3 separate regions of the Homo sapiens genome follow, and all the other regions are linked to region 1. Evidence: fine-mapped expression QTL. A gene starts in region 1. Each other region holds a variant in brackets. All regions are shown on one strand. Distances are between the middles of the regions.

Region 1 (4,205 bases):
CCTGACCACAGCTTGGGCTCAGCAAATGTTTGTGGTGTGAATGACCGAAGGACCTTTGTCCCCAAATGTTCCCTGCACTGTGCCTGAAATGTCACCATTTATGAGTCCTGCCTGGTTCCTGGCTCCTGTTGGCTTTTGCCTTCCCACAGCTGGGACCTCTTTCTCCAACAGCTGGCCCAGCCCTGCCCAGACTCTGGGGGTTATCACAGACTTAGCCCAGGGAGATTTAAAGAGCCAGCATTAAGAAGTGCAGGTGACTCAACTTCCTGTGAACTTGGCTGCAAGTTCCACTCCCTTGCTGGGTCTGGGCACCTGGTGGCACTATATTCCACGAGACTGGTAGCTCCGTGGGAGACCATTTCCCTCGGACCCCAGCTCTGGGCTAGAACAGAGTCCCTGCGGATGTGTGCTACCTCCCGCTGTGGCCAATGCCCAGCTGCCAAGCTTCTCTGATGCCTGCTGCCCCATTCAGGTGGCACACCTTCCTTGGGCACCTAGCATGTGCCGGGCACAGGATCTCTGCCATAGAACTCACAGCCAGAGTGGGAGAGGCAGGGCCCCAGACATGACATGGGCTGTACGGTGTGGTCAGAGCCAGGACAGGGCTCAGAGAAATGTGGGTTGCAGGGCAAGGGTTCAGAAGCAGCCTCAGAGGTGGGGTCTGAGCTGAGACCGAAGAGGAAAGGAAGAGCGTGGCGGAGGGGTGGCTTCCTGGCTGACGACTCTGCAGGGACAGGGGCTCAAGAAAGCGCCCCCCATCACTCACAGACCTAGAGCCCTCAGCCATGTCTCTGGGAGCATGGTGTTCTCGGAGGAGGGATTGAGGGGATTAGCTACCTTCTCGCACATGACTCAAAACCCGGCATTTCCACAAAAGCTGCGGTTTATTTATTCAGACAACATTAGTGCCTCCCCACCATGTGCTTGGATATGGGCTGGGAACTAGGGGCTCATCCAGTGTAGACCAAGGCCTAGCCGTGCCCTCAAGGGGCTTATAGGCCAGCGGGGAGAGAGGCCTGGAAACAGGTCCCGAGAGCACAGCCTGAGATAAGCAGCCGTGCCTGAGCCCATCTGGATCTGCCCGGAGCAGGAGGCTGAACCCAGTCCCAGGCAGCACCTCACGTGGGATGCAGCATCCACACATGCAGCCCATGGGGCTGGGGAGGTGGATGGGCAGGAGGATAGCCCTCATCCTCTGGAGTCACCAGGTGACCGTGTGACAATGTCTTTTAACACAAGGGAGGCAGCAGAGCCCTGGGCCTTTGGAGTCTTTCTAGATCTGGCCTCTGATCTTGTCTTCATTGTTTGATAATTGAGTGACCTGGAGCAAATGCCTTCACCTCTCTGAGCCTCAGTTTGCTCCTCTGTAAAATGGGCTTAGGGTTAGTATTTCATTCTAGGGTTGCAGCCAGTCTTCAAGCAAATAACTGAAAATGCTTAGAACATGGTTAACAACAAGACTTCTTGTTGATTATAATAGCAGTAGTGCTTGCAATAACCGGGAAGCACAGAGCCCACCTGGCAGAAGGAAAACGAATGGCAAAGTTTGTGTGTGTGTTGGGGGGCGGGGGTGGGGGGATTTGTCGCAGCACTGGGTGGAGGGAGCTGCAGAAGCCAGGGTCCGCTTTGGCCAGGCAGGGGTGGGGGGAGTTGGGGCTGGAGGGAGACTGGGGCCGTTGCGCCTCCCCCTCCCTCTCTCCCGCCCCCGGCGCGCCATCGGCGGGAGGCGCAGGTGTCCACTGCATCCTGCGCGTCCCCATCCCTCGCTGCCCTGGCCGGGGCCCCAGCTCCTTTCTGCCTTCCGCCCCGCGTCCTCCCCTAACCTCGGATCTGGACGGGCGAACAGTGGGGCTGGGAAAGTTTGAGTCACGATTGGGGGAGGGGAGGAGGCGGGCCGTGACCCTGAACGGGGTGGGCTCTAGGACCCGCCTCGGGCGCCCAGCAGGCGGACCCGCCGCGCGCCCCTATCCCTCGCGCACTGGCCGCGGCCCGACGGAGCAAGGCACTGCCTGCAGCCGCCGTGTGCACCGGGGCGGCCGGCTAGCTCCGACCTGCGCCTCCACCGCAGCACCCGCAGCCAGAGCCGCGCTCGGCATGATGCCCGGGGCGCCGCTCCTGCGGCTGCTGACCGCGGTCTCTGCGGCAGTGGCAGTGGCAGTGGCCGGGGCGCCCGGGACGGTAATGCCCCCCACCACGGGGGACGCCACCCTGGCCTTCGTCTTCGACGTCACCGGCTCCATGTGGGACGAACTGATGCAGGTGATCGATGGCGCCTCGCGCATTCTGGAACGCAGTCTGAGCCGCCGCAGCCAGGCCATCGCCAACTACGCGCTGGTGCCCTTCCACGACCCAGGTAGCGCCCCCGCACCCCCGCCCGCCGGGCGCCCCCTTCGAGGTGCTCTCACCTGCCTGACCCCCTCAGTTGGCCCCGAACGCACCTGGACGTCGTGGGCTGCGCCGCGGCTTGGCGGGCGCGCCTTCTCGGCATATCCGCGCTGCGGGTACCCTGGCCACCTGGGCAGTCCTTGCAGCTGTCCCTTCCCTCCCACCCCCCTGGAACATTCCCTCGCTCAAGGAACCTGCTCTCCCTGCTCTCCCGCGCCGTTGTGAGACTTCAGCAAGTGACCTCACCTTCCCGCGCCTTACCGGCCCCACCTATGAAATGGTGAGGATGGCCTCCCAGACTTGCTGAGATGTTGAAATGAGGCATTCCTCTCGAGGACTTGGGACGCTACGAGCCTTTGCAGGGCTTTTCCTTTGGCCAATTCTTAGAATTCGCTCCCAGCGGAGGCTTGGAGACCGGAATGGCTCCCAGAGGCAGGCCTTGAGACGAAATGGGGTCCACCACGGACCCTGCAGTGGGGAGCGGACTCACCCTTGCTGGTCTTGTCCCCTCGCCTGTCTTCCCTGGGGAAAGGGCAGCGCCTCTCGTGTGCTGGCCCCGTGGCCTCCACCTGCTGTGTTCTCACAGCTGAGTTCCGCCCTAACTCCTTCTTCCCTGCACGCTGCACCTCTGCTTCCCCTTTAACCCCCTGCCTTGCAGCTCAGTGTTAGGGGCGCCCTTGAAAGGGTCCCTGGGCGCTCCACTGTAGAGAGTCCCAGGGACAGCGGTTGCTGAGTGAGCTGCAGGTTCCCAGCGGCGAGGAGCAGGACTGCTTTCCACACTTCTTTTTTTTTTTGAGACAAGGTCTGGCTCTGTCACCCAGGCTGGAGTGCAGTGGCGTGATCACAGCTCGCTGCAGCCTCGAACTCCTGGGCTCAGGTGACCCTCCTGCTTCAGCCTCCCAAGTAGCTGGGACTACAAGCATACGCCACCATGCCTGGCTGATTTTTAAATTTTTTATAGACATGGAGTCTCTCTGTATTGCCCAGGCTAGTCTCAAACTCCTGGCCTCAGTGATCCTCCCACTTAGGCCTCCCAAAGTGCTGAAATTACAAGCATGAGCCACTGCACCCAGCCTCCCCAGCGTTTTTTAATGGAAAATTTCAAACTTACAGTAAAATGGGGAGAAACATACATGGAACCGCCTATGCCCACCGAGAGCCTCTGAGTCATATTTTGCTTTATCACATCTCTCTATCATTCACCCCTCTGTCAAGGATAGCTTTATAAAGCAACAAACAAACAAACAAACAACCCCCCCAAATAAAACACACACACACACACACACACACACACACACACACACACACGCACAGATTCCTTGCTAAATTGTACTGCAGAGTGTTCTTGTGCTGAAGAAATAGACGGTGGCCATTGGCTGTATGAGCCAGCAAGTCCTTGCAGAGGGATTTGCATTTATTAATCACAATACCATTACAGGTTCTTAGAAAATGGACAAAACAGTGGGAAGACATAGTTCTACGTAGGCTTCAGGCTGAGTTTGTGGTCTAGGGGCTTGGAGGCCCCTCTGCTTCCAGGAGTTCTGGGCACCACAGGGTTTTGCAGCTCAAAGCTCAGAAGCCAAGGCTCTAGACAAAGATTTCTAGGAACATCAGATGGACAGCTTCTATCTTGGAGTCAGGGGGCAACCAAGCTGGGGGTTGTGAGGAGGTGGGCTGTGAAGTGTGTTCTGGCACTTAAGCTGGAACACAGGTCACCCTCCGTCTCCCCAGCTCTCTCACCCACTTTCTGAATTGTTCTGGGGCTTCCGAAGACATCACACTGAAGGAGCTTAGAGATCGTTGAATCTACCCCTTTATCT
Region 2 (4,205 bases), 29 kb after region 1:
CTCTTGCCTGAAATGATATTTCATTAGGGGTTGCAAAATGATGATTTCCTAACTGCATCATTCCTCCCACATTTATGAGTGGGCATTCTTCCAAGAAGAAGAACTTTTATGCATCAAAAGTGACGGATAATTTGGTTTCTCTGAAGTACAATTTCTGTCGAAAAGGCACGGAATCACACTTAGTTCTTTCTCTTCGATTAAGGAGTCACTTCAGTTGTGGCAAGGGAGGCTTTACTGTTTTGAATTTTGCTTTCTCTTTTTTGAGTATCATTATGTGCACATGGATTATATTATTCAATGTGTTTCAATTGAGCACAGTTATTATTCTCTTTTGGGCTCAAGTTGTCCCAAATTTAGTCAGTGGGAGCTCCTTCAAGCTGGTTCCTATGTCCTTTTGATATGTCCCTATTTGTCTTTGAGAACTTCTTTGTTTTATGGAATAACCCATCATCCCAGGCTCACCTTATAAATTGCCTGCCCCAGACCTGGAATTAGCCACTTCTCCAAGGAACCCTCGTGGGGAATGGTATTTAGAAACCAAGATCTAGGTACTGGTGGTGATCATTGTTATTGAAACTTTGGGCCATCATTGCTTCTGGATCAATTGCTCTATCTATCTATCTATCTATCTATCTATCTATCTATCTATCTACCTACCTACCTGCCTATATACCTACCTATCAATTTATCATCTATCTCTATCTGGAGAACTTATACTGATATTTCCAATTCAAATTTCACATTGTAGATCTTTTACTTAGCTCATTTGATTTGATACTTGCAGCTGTCTCTTACATTTGTTTATAAGAAAAAAATCTTGATTCTGAAAATATTGACATCTTTACTTATTTGCTTTATCCAACAAGATATATAAAATGGGTTCAAAATCACAGTGCTGATAGTTCTTCCAAATAAAATCTACTCACTAAAGTTTTTTTTTTTTTTTTTTTTTGCGGTTCTTGTTGTCCTCCTACTGAGAAAGGATAGTTGAACCGCCGGGTTTGGAATTCACTTGGAGATGTTCTTTTCTCTCTGTGGTTGTGGTACCGATTTTATGGTTGAGCTCACTGTCTTTCAGTTTTAGGGTTTGCACAGGATGGACGCTCTTTGAGATAACTTGGCCTGGAAAGAGAAGGTCCAGACTTGAAGGGGCTCCCTTCCTCTCCCTCTGTCTTGGTTTCCTTGCTGGAATCTAGGTGACTTGGCTATTGCAAAGGAGGAGGTGTGAGCTGGGGAGAGGAGGGGTATGGAGTGAGGTGCCTGAGAGGTGGACTTGAGGTCAGCCTGATAGCTCTGCCCAGGAGATGCATGTCCTACTGAACTCACACAGCCAGCAGGTGCCTCCTGAGCACTCACTCTGTGCCTGGCAGTGAGCTCAGGGCTGAGACACACATGGGCACAGCAGAGGTTCTCTGCCCCCACAGAGATCCCAGGCCAGTAAGGATGAGAAGCCCGAATCCAATAAATGTGAATGACTGGAGTGCAGATTGCTGCAAAATAGTATGTATCAGGGAACAGAGCCTTTTCAGGATTAGAGAGGGCTCTTCAAGCAGCGAGCTGAAGTATA[G/A]CAAGGAGATGGTCGATGAGGAGGCAGGGCATTCCTGCAAAGAACACGGCATGTATGGGTGGGGGCTGCCTGCGGGAGGGGTGGGGTCCAGTGTAGCAGGCAGGGGGAGGCAGTGGCACAGTGACCTTGGGTTGGCATAGGTGCCTAGGACCATAGAACCTAGGGTCTTGAAGGCCATGGTCAGGATTTGGAGAAACTAAATAAGTTTGTGCTCAGTTTGTGGTAGGGGGAGTATCTCTGAGGGAGTTTGGGAACCTCCCGAAGTCATACCCTAAATGTGTACCTAAGGGATAGGATGATATCCCAGGCAAAGGGTCCTTACCTTTTATCTGATTCTCAGTGGCACTTGTCCAAAAGATGTAAGACTTTAGAATGAATAATCAATTATAGAAACCAAGGATTTAGGTCTTCTCAATATTGCAAAAATCCATCCAGCAATTCCTTACTTCTGTGGACTGGAAAGAGACCTGAAGTCTTTGCAGCAGTGCCTCTCAGTCCTGCTTAGGGAACGTGGCGCCCTGGTGGGAGCACAGTTGGAGGCCCCTGGGATAATCAGTCATGAACTACATGGGTCTGGGGGAGTTTCCAGATCTCCAGGGTTCATTGTGTGTAAGAGGCACCAAGAGGGCTTCCTGGAGGAAGTGTGGGTGCTGTGGAAGGAGGCCAGGTGGAGAAGTGTGGAAGAGTCTTCCCAGTAGAGGGACACACCCTTGCTCCTTCCCTCTGTGCTGAGTCCTCCGAATGCCTCAATTCAGGCTTCACAGCTTGGAGCCTATGGAAGCCAGGAGGGTCACAATGTGTGAATTGGGCCTGGTGTTGGACATGGAGGAGTGGGGTGGCCTTGGGCGACCTGGAAAGTTTGTATGCTGCCTAAAATCCATGGGAGGGGGAAGACATTGTGGGCACCTGCCGGCATCAGCTCCTCATACTTGCCTCCAGGTGCTGAAGTGGGTGGAGTCAGCGATCCAGGCCTCCAAGGTGCACCTGCTGTCCACAGACCACGAGGAGGAGGGGGAGCACACATGGAGACTCCCCTTTGACCCCAGCCTGAAGGAGGTCACCATCTCATTGAGTGGGCCAGGGCCTGAGATTGAAGTCCAAGATCCGCTGGGTATGGACCACCCCGGGGCTGGCCTCCTCTTTGGCCCCAAGACTGAGGTGGAAGCCCAGGATGGGACAAAGAAAGAGACCAAGGGTGACAGGGCTTCAGACATGAGGCTCCAGGAATAGGGAAATATGGGGTGGGGGGGACACGAAGTGGAGAGAGGGCGCCCATGGTGTGCGAGGAAGCAGGAGGGCCATAGCAACCGGCGATGGGAATTAAAGTAATGGCGGTCCCTGCATCGTGAGACTCTCCCCAAGTCTTTTCCGTGGTACCCCAGTGGATTCTCATGGTGGTGAGAACTTGTAGCATATTGTACAGATGGGAAGCTGGGGTTCCAGGTGCTGAGTGCTCATCAAGGTCAACAGAGTCAGGGGAAGTGTGATTCAGACATGGTCACCTGACCCCATGGTGTTCTGAGGATGTCATGAGCACCCAGGTCTAGAGGCCGGGCACACAGTCTGCCCCTGGGGATCCCTGAGGGTGGAGCGTGGAGTGAGGCAGTGGCCGAGGACCACCAAGACCCCTTGTCACTTCCGGGAAGACTGAGGCTAGTGTTTGGTGTACTGTGGATTCCTGGAGACATGCGGGGCTCCTGCCACCCCCAGCAAAGGGTTAGGGACTGAGCAGCCCTTGGGGCTTCCACAGGGAGGATCCTGCAGGAGGACGAGGGCCTCAACGTGCTTCTCAACATCCCTGACTCGGCCAAGGTCGTAGCCTTTAAGCCTGAGCATCCGGGGCTGTGGTCCATCAAGGTAGGGGCACTGGGTTGCAGGAGAAAGGTCGACTAGCTTTACTGGGCTGGAACCATCTTCCTCCTACTTGCCCTGGGGAGCCTGTGGCCTCGGGAAGCTGATGGCTAGAGTGTGGGTGGTGATGTGGTCGTATCAATAGAAGTAACGGGTCAAGGACAGAGAAAGGGCATTTTGCCTTGTACCAGTAGGAAGAAATAGAGTGGTTTGGGGTTACTTTGGGAACATTTAAGAAGGACTTGGAGAAATGACTTCAGGGTTCAGAGGTGCATAACCAAGCTGTGAAGAATGTGTAAAAGAAGCAACAGCAACTTTGGTGGGAGGGCTCAGTGGGGCAGGGCTGGCAGGAAGAGGAGGGCCCTGCTATAATCTACAGGGTGCTGGGAGCCAGGGACTGTGGGCCAGTTTGGCTCCCAACAGAGCATCCTGGGATGGGCAGGCTGCTGCCCTGGAAGAGTGGGGGCTCCTGCTGACCAGGCAAACATTTATTGAGCACCTTCTGCAGGCACTGTGCTAGGTGTTGCAGGTAAAGTGGCAGTACCACCTCCTGCCTTTCAAACTCTGAGCACCTCTGAGCCAAGAGCTGTAATGCCAATGGGGAGGGCAAGGCAGGGAGTTAGACATTCACGGGAACAGACAGGGCCTGCCGGGGCTGAGGCGAGCTGAGGGGCAACACAGCCTCAAGAGGGCTGCTCAGGTTTGGGTTGTAAGCTGGGGCTTCAGCTCCTTCATTTGGGGAGCATCGTGCTGGGCCCCTTGGGAGGAGGTAAGTTGCCCATGTGTC
Region 3 (4,205 bases), 34 kb after region 1:
AGTGAAAAGGGGCTGCTTGCTCAGTTTGTTTGTTTTGCCGATAGCAGAAAGGGAAGAAGCAGGGAAACTTTGATTCTACTGTTAAGCCAGGAGAGCTAAGATATCCTATGTGTAGTGATGGCGCGGGGACTGAAAACTGGCCTGTCCCCAGTGGAAGTGGGTGCAGGAGGCCACATGCGACCCTGTTGGGTTTCTGCTCTTGATAAAGATGTATATCCAAGATAATTTTTTTTTGAGATGGAGTCTCACTCTGTCACCCAAGCTGGAGTGCAGTGGTGCGATCTCTGCTCACTCTAACCTCTGCCTCCTGGATTCAAGCAATTCTCTTGCTTCAGCCTCCCGAGCAGCTGGGATTATAGGTGCGCGCTACACACCTGGCTAATTTTTGTATTTTTAGTAGAGACAGGGTTTTGCCATGTTGGCCAGTTTGGTCTTGAACTCCTGACCTCAGGTGATCTGCCTGCCTCAGCCTCCCAAAGTGCTGGGATTACAGTCATGAGCCACCATGCCAGGCCAAGATAATTTTTTTTAAAGAGAAACATTTGGGAGGCCAAGGTAGGAGGATTGCTTGAGGCCAGGAGTTCAAGACCAGCCTGGACAACACAGCAAGACCCCATCTCTACAAAATTTAAAAAATTAGCCAGGTATAGTGGTGCATACCTGTAGTCTCAGCTACTCGGGAGGCTGAGGTGGGAGTATTGCTTGAGCCCAAGAGTTTGAGGCTGCAGTGAGCTGTGATTGCACTACTGCACTCCAGCCTGGATGACAGAAAATTTAAAAAGACATTATGAAATTGGAGTCCAGTTCTACCTCTTCTGGGATAGTGTGAAAAGTACCACATTTCCATCAAGACAGTAAAGAAAACCAAAGAAAACCTGAACACGGGGAGAGTCTGGTCAGAAGTTGGAGTCCCCAAACTTGGTGTTTGCTTTATCTGAGGCCATTCCCTGAAGCCTGTCTGATTATGGCCCACACCAGAGTTAATGGGGTGGGGGACAGTTCTACTCCATGGGACTCCAACTCAGTGCAGTCAGAGGGGATGCAGCCATTGGGAAGCCGTGGTTGGACGACTGTGGTGTTTCAGCACCACGGACAGTAGCAAGGTCCCTATCTACCTATCCCACCCCCAGCGTTGGTCAGCACCAGGGTAGGTAGGGAAGGAGGGACCAGGTAGGAAGGGCCAGGCAAGCAGGACCCCTGGGGTGTGGTTCGAGGGCCCCTACTTGAGGGGGATCACAGAGGCAGACACTGACGCCAGCACTTTGTTCTTCACCTTCCCTCTGCAGGAGTCCCCATCTCCCTGGTGATCAATTCCACGGGCCTGAAGGCACCCGGCCGCCTAGACTCGGTGGAGCTGGCACAAAGCTCAGGGAAGCCCCTCCTGACTCTGCCCACGAAGCCCCTCTCCAATGGCTCCACCCATCAGCTGTGGGGCGGGCCGCCCTTCCACACCCCCAAGGAGCGCTTCTACCTCAAGGTGAAGGGCAAGGACCATGAGGGAAACCCCCTCCTTCGTGTCTCTGGAGTGTCCTACAGTGGGGTGGCCCCAGGTGAGTGGTTGGCTCTTTTGTCTCCCAGGCCCCTGGCTCATTCAGAGTCCCATTTCATCCTGGAGCCTTCCCTGACTGGATTAGATTAAATTAGATTAGAAAGTGTTTGTTCATTAAGCTTCTATGGACAGCTATTCCCTATAAGGCATTATGTTAAATACTAAGATGCTCAGATGTGGCTCTCAGCTCAAGGATTTAGAACAAAGTCATCAAGTCAACTATCCATTCATCCATCTACCCATTCATCCATCCATCCACCCATTCATTCATGCACTGACCCATTCACTCACCCACCCATCCACCCACCCATTCATCCACTCATGCACCCACCCA[T/A]CCACTCACCCATCCATCTACCCACTCATTCATCCACTCATCCACCCACCCATTCATGCATCCATTGACTCACCTATTCATCCATCCACCCACCCATTCACTCACCCATCCACCCACCCATCCACCCACCCATTCACTCACCTATCCATCTACCCACCCATTCATCCACTCATCCACCCATCCATTCATGCATGCATTGACTCACCTATTCATCCATCCACCCACCCATTCACTCACCCATCCACCCACCCATTCACTCACCCATCCATCTACCCACCCATTCATGCACTCATCCACCCACCCAATCATGCATCCATTGACTCACCTATTCATCCATCCACCCACCCGCTCACTCACCCACCCATCTACCCATTCATGCATCCATCCACTTACCCATTCATGCATCCATCCACTCACCCATTCATGCATCCACCCACCTACCCATCTATCCACTCACCCATCCACTCACCCATTTGCTTACCCATCCATCTACCCATTCATGCATCCATCCACTCACCCATTCATGCATCCACCCACCCATCCATCTATCCATTCATTCATCCACTCACCCATCCATCTACCCACCCATTCACTATTAATTCACCTATCTATCCATCTATTTATCCATCTATCCACCCATTCGTCCACCCACCTGTCCACCCACACATCCATCTACTCAGCATTCATTTTGAGTATCTACTATGTACCAGTCATGGTGCTAGGCACTGTAGACACAGCAGTGGGCAGGGCAGACATGGACTTTTGCTCTTCCATAATCACAATCACTGTCATAATCACAATCATCCGAGTCACCATTTGGACACTTTCCATGGGGCAGTCCTGGGCCAAGCTCCTGCCATGTGCTAGCTCACTGATGCTTACAGCTTTTCAGAGATGTGTCCCCACTTCATAGATAAGGAAACTGAGCCCACCCAGCTCACAGGGCTGCCGTGGGGGTGCCCAAGCTAATGCACACAACAAGACAGCATTTGGGTCCTCAGAGGCTGCACTCAGAATGTATCCATTTGTGGGCAAGGGCCCTCCAGTGTGGCAGCTGCTGTTACCGTTACATCATTGCAGGAACAGGTCACTTTGTCCTCCAATCTTTGGCCATGGTCTGTTGGTTCCCGTATGTGTGGCTTTTTGCTGGTTTCCTGTGTGTCCCTGAGGTCTCACCGTTCAGGCTGGAAGCTCCCAGGGAGAAGGGTGGATCTTTGGCCTTTCAGGTCTGCCCCTGGTCCTAACAGGGATGTCTAGGGCCACTGGCCATCTGGCTTCCTTGCTGGCTTCATTGCCTTTCTCCTGCCCACTGTCTCCCTCCCCTGGAGGTGGCCCGAGGGGAGCTTACAAAGGTGGATGTCATTAACATTCTAGTACTTCTTTGTGGGGGATCTCAGTGAGAGGCATCCTCCTCTGTCCACTTCAAATAAGGATGCAGGGAGGGGAAGAAGGGCCAGCTCTTGAGGCTGGCCACGGTGCCCATCGTGCCTACAGTGCCCATGGTTGGTGGAGGACTTTGAGGACCTGGGTGGGGCAAGGCAGGGCTGGGCAGGAGAGCTGGAGACCTCTTCTTTCCAGCCTCCCAGCTTCCACTCCCCTACTGTGGTTCCGGGGCCTCTCTTCCCTTGGCCTTTGCAGCCTTGAGGAGGAACTTTCAGGAAGGAATTTCAGCAGAGGGAATAACAGCCTCTATTTTCTTTCCCCTGTTCTTTCAGATGGATCCAAGAGTTTGGAGTTTAGCTCTGGCTTTTGTTCTCTATCTCAGCTCTAGATTAAAGTTGGGGAAGGGATTTGGTTTGGATTTTTGCTTCCTTCCCCGCCCTCCAGGTCTGGGAGGCTGGAATTTCGCCTTGTAGCAGGTGGCTCTGGGTTTGGAGAGATGAGGGTGGGCCTGTGGTCCCATTTAGCTCATGGAAATGGGGAGCCCAAACTGGCTTGGCAGAGGCTCCCAGGGTGCGTGGGTGAGTGGCGACTGCTTTGCACACAGCCGAGGACGTGGCTGGATGGTCAGACACCCCTCCCCCCCCGGGACAGATGTGGCAGGGAGCCTGGAGCATGATGTCACCGCCGCCTTCCCATCCCCAGCCTGGGCTCCGAGGAGGTCTAGTGCATTGTCTCATTCCCGGAGCATCTCTGCTGGGCTCCTCTGCTGGCGGGGATGGGGAGACGGTGACACAAAGGTTGAGCCCTTGCCAGGGGGCACCCAGCTCTGATGGGCCATGGCTGACCCAGCGGGGCAGTTTCTCAGACTTCTCCATTGAAGTAATTCCAATAGCCAAGGGAAGAGACTGTGTCACTCCAAGACCAGGCTCGGGCCAGGGA

Evidence for each region. PIP is the estimated chance that this variant, and not a neighbour inherited with it, causes the effect. A credible set is the group of variants that fine-mapping cannot tell apart.
Region 2: its variant is the best candidate, but not a certain one, in a credible set for the expression of HMCN2 in gastroesophageal junction (GTEx, PIP 0.72).
Region 3: its variant is the best candidate, but not a certain one, in a credible set for the expression of HMCN2 in cerebellum (GTEx, PIP 0.66).

Annotation. Positions count from the first base shown.
Region 1 is chr9:130,263,785-130,267,989 of GRCh38, forward strand. It overlaps HMCN2 (hemicentin 2), which reads left to right and starts at 1,976. Exons shown (of 98, transcript NM_001291815.2): 1 at 1,976-2,353. The coding sequence starts at 2,095. LOC124902285 (a long non-coding RNA gene) reads right to left here and starts at 3,105. Exons shown (of 2, transcript XR_007061817.1): 1 at 2,632-3,105.
Region 2 is chr9:130,292,349-130,296,553 of GRCh38, forward strand. HMCN2 (hemicentin 2) reads left to right here. Exons shown (of 98, transcript NM_001291815.2): 5 at 2,507-2,678; 6 at 3,318-3,424. Among named protein-coding and RNA genes, the nearest start is that of HMCN2, 29 kb to the left of the region's middle. The variant G/A (reference allele first, on the strand shown) is at 1,568.
Region 3 is chr9:130,297,739-130,301,943 of GRCh38, forward strand. HMCN2 (hemicentin 2) reads left to right here. Exons shown (of 98, transcript NM_001291815.2): 8 at 1,287-1,550. Among named protein-coding and RNA genes, the nearest start is that of HMCN2, 34 kb to the left of the region's middle. RefSeq lists an enhancer at 3,640-4,205. The variant T/A (reference allele first, on the strand shown) is at 1,884.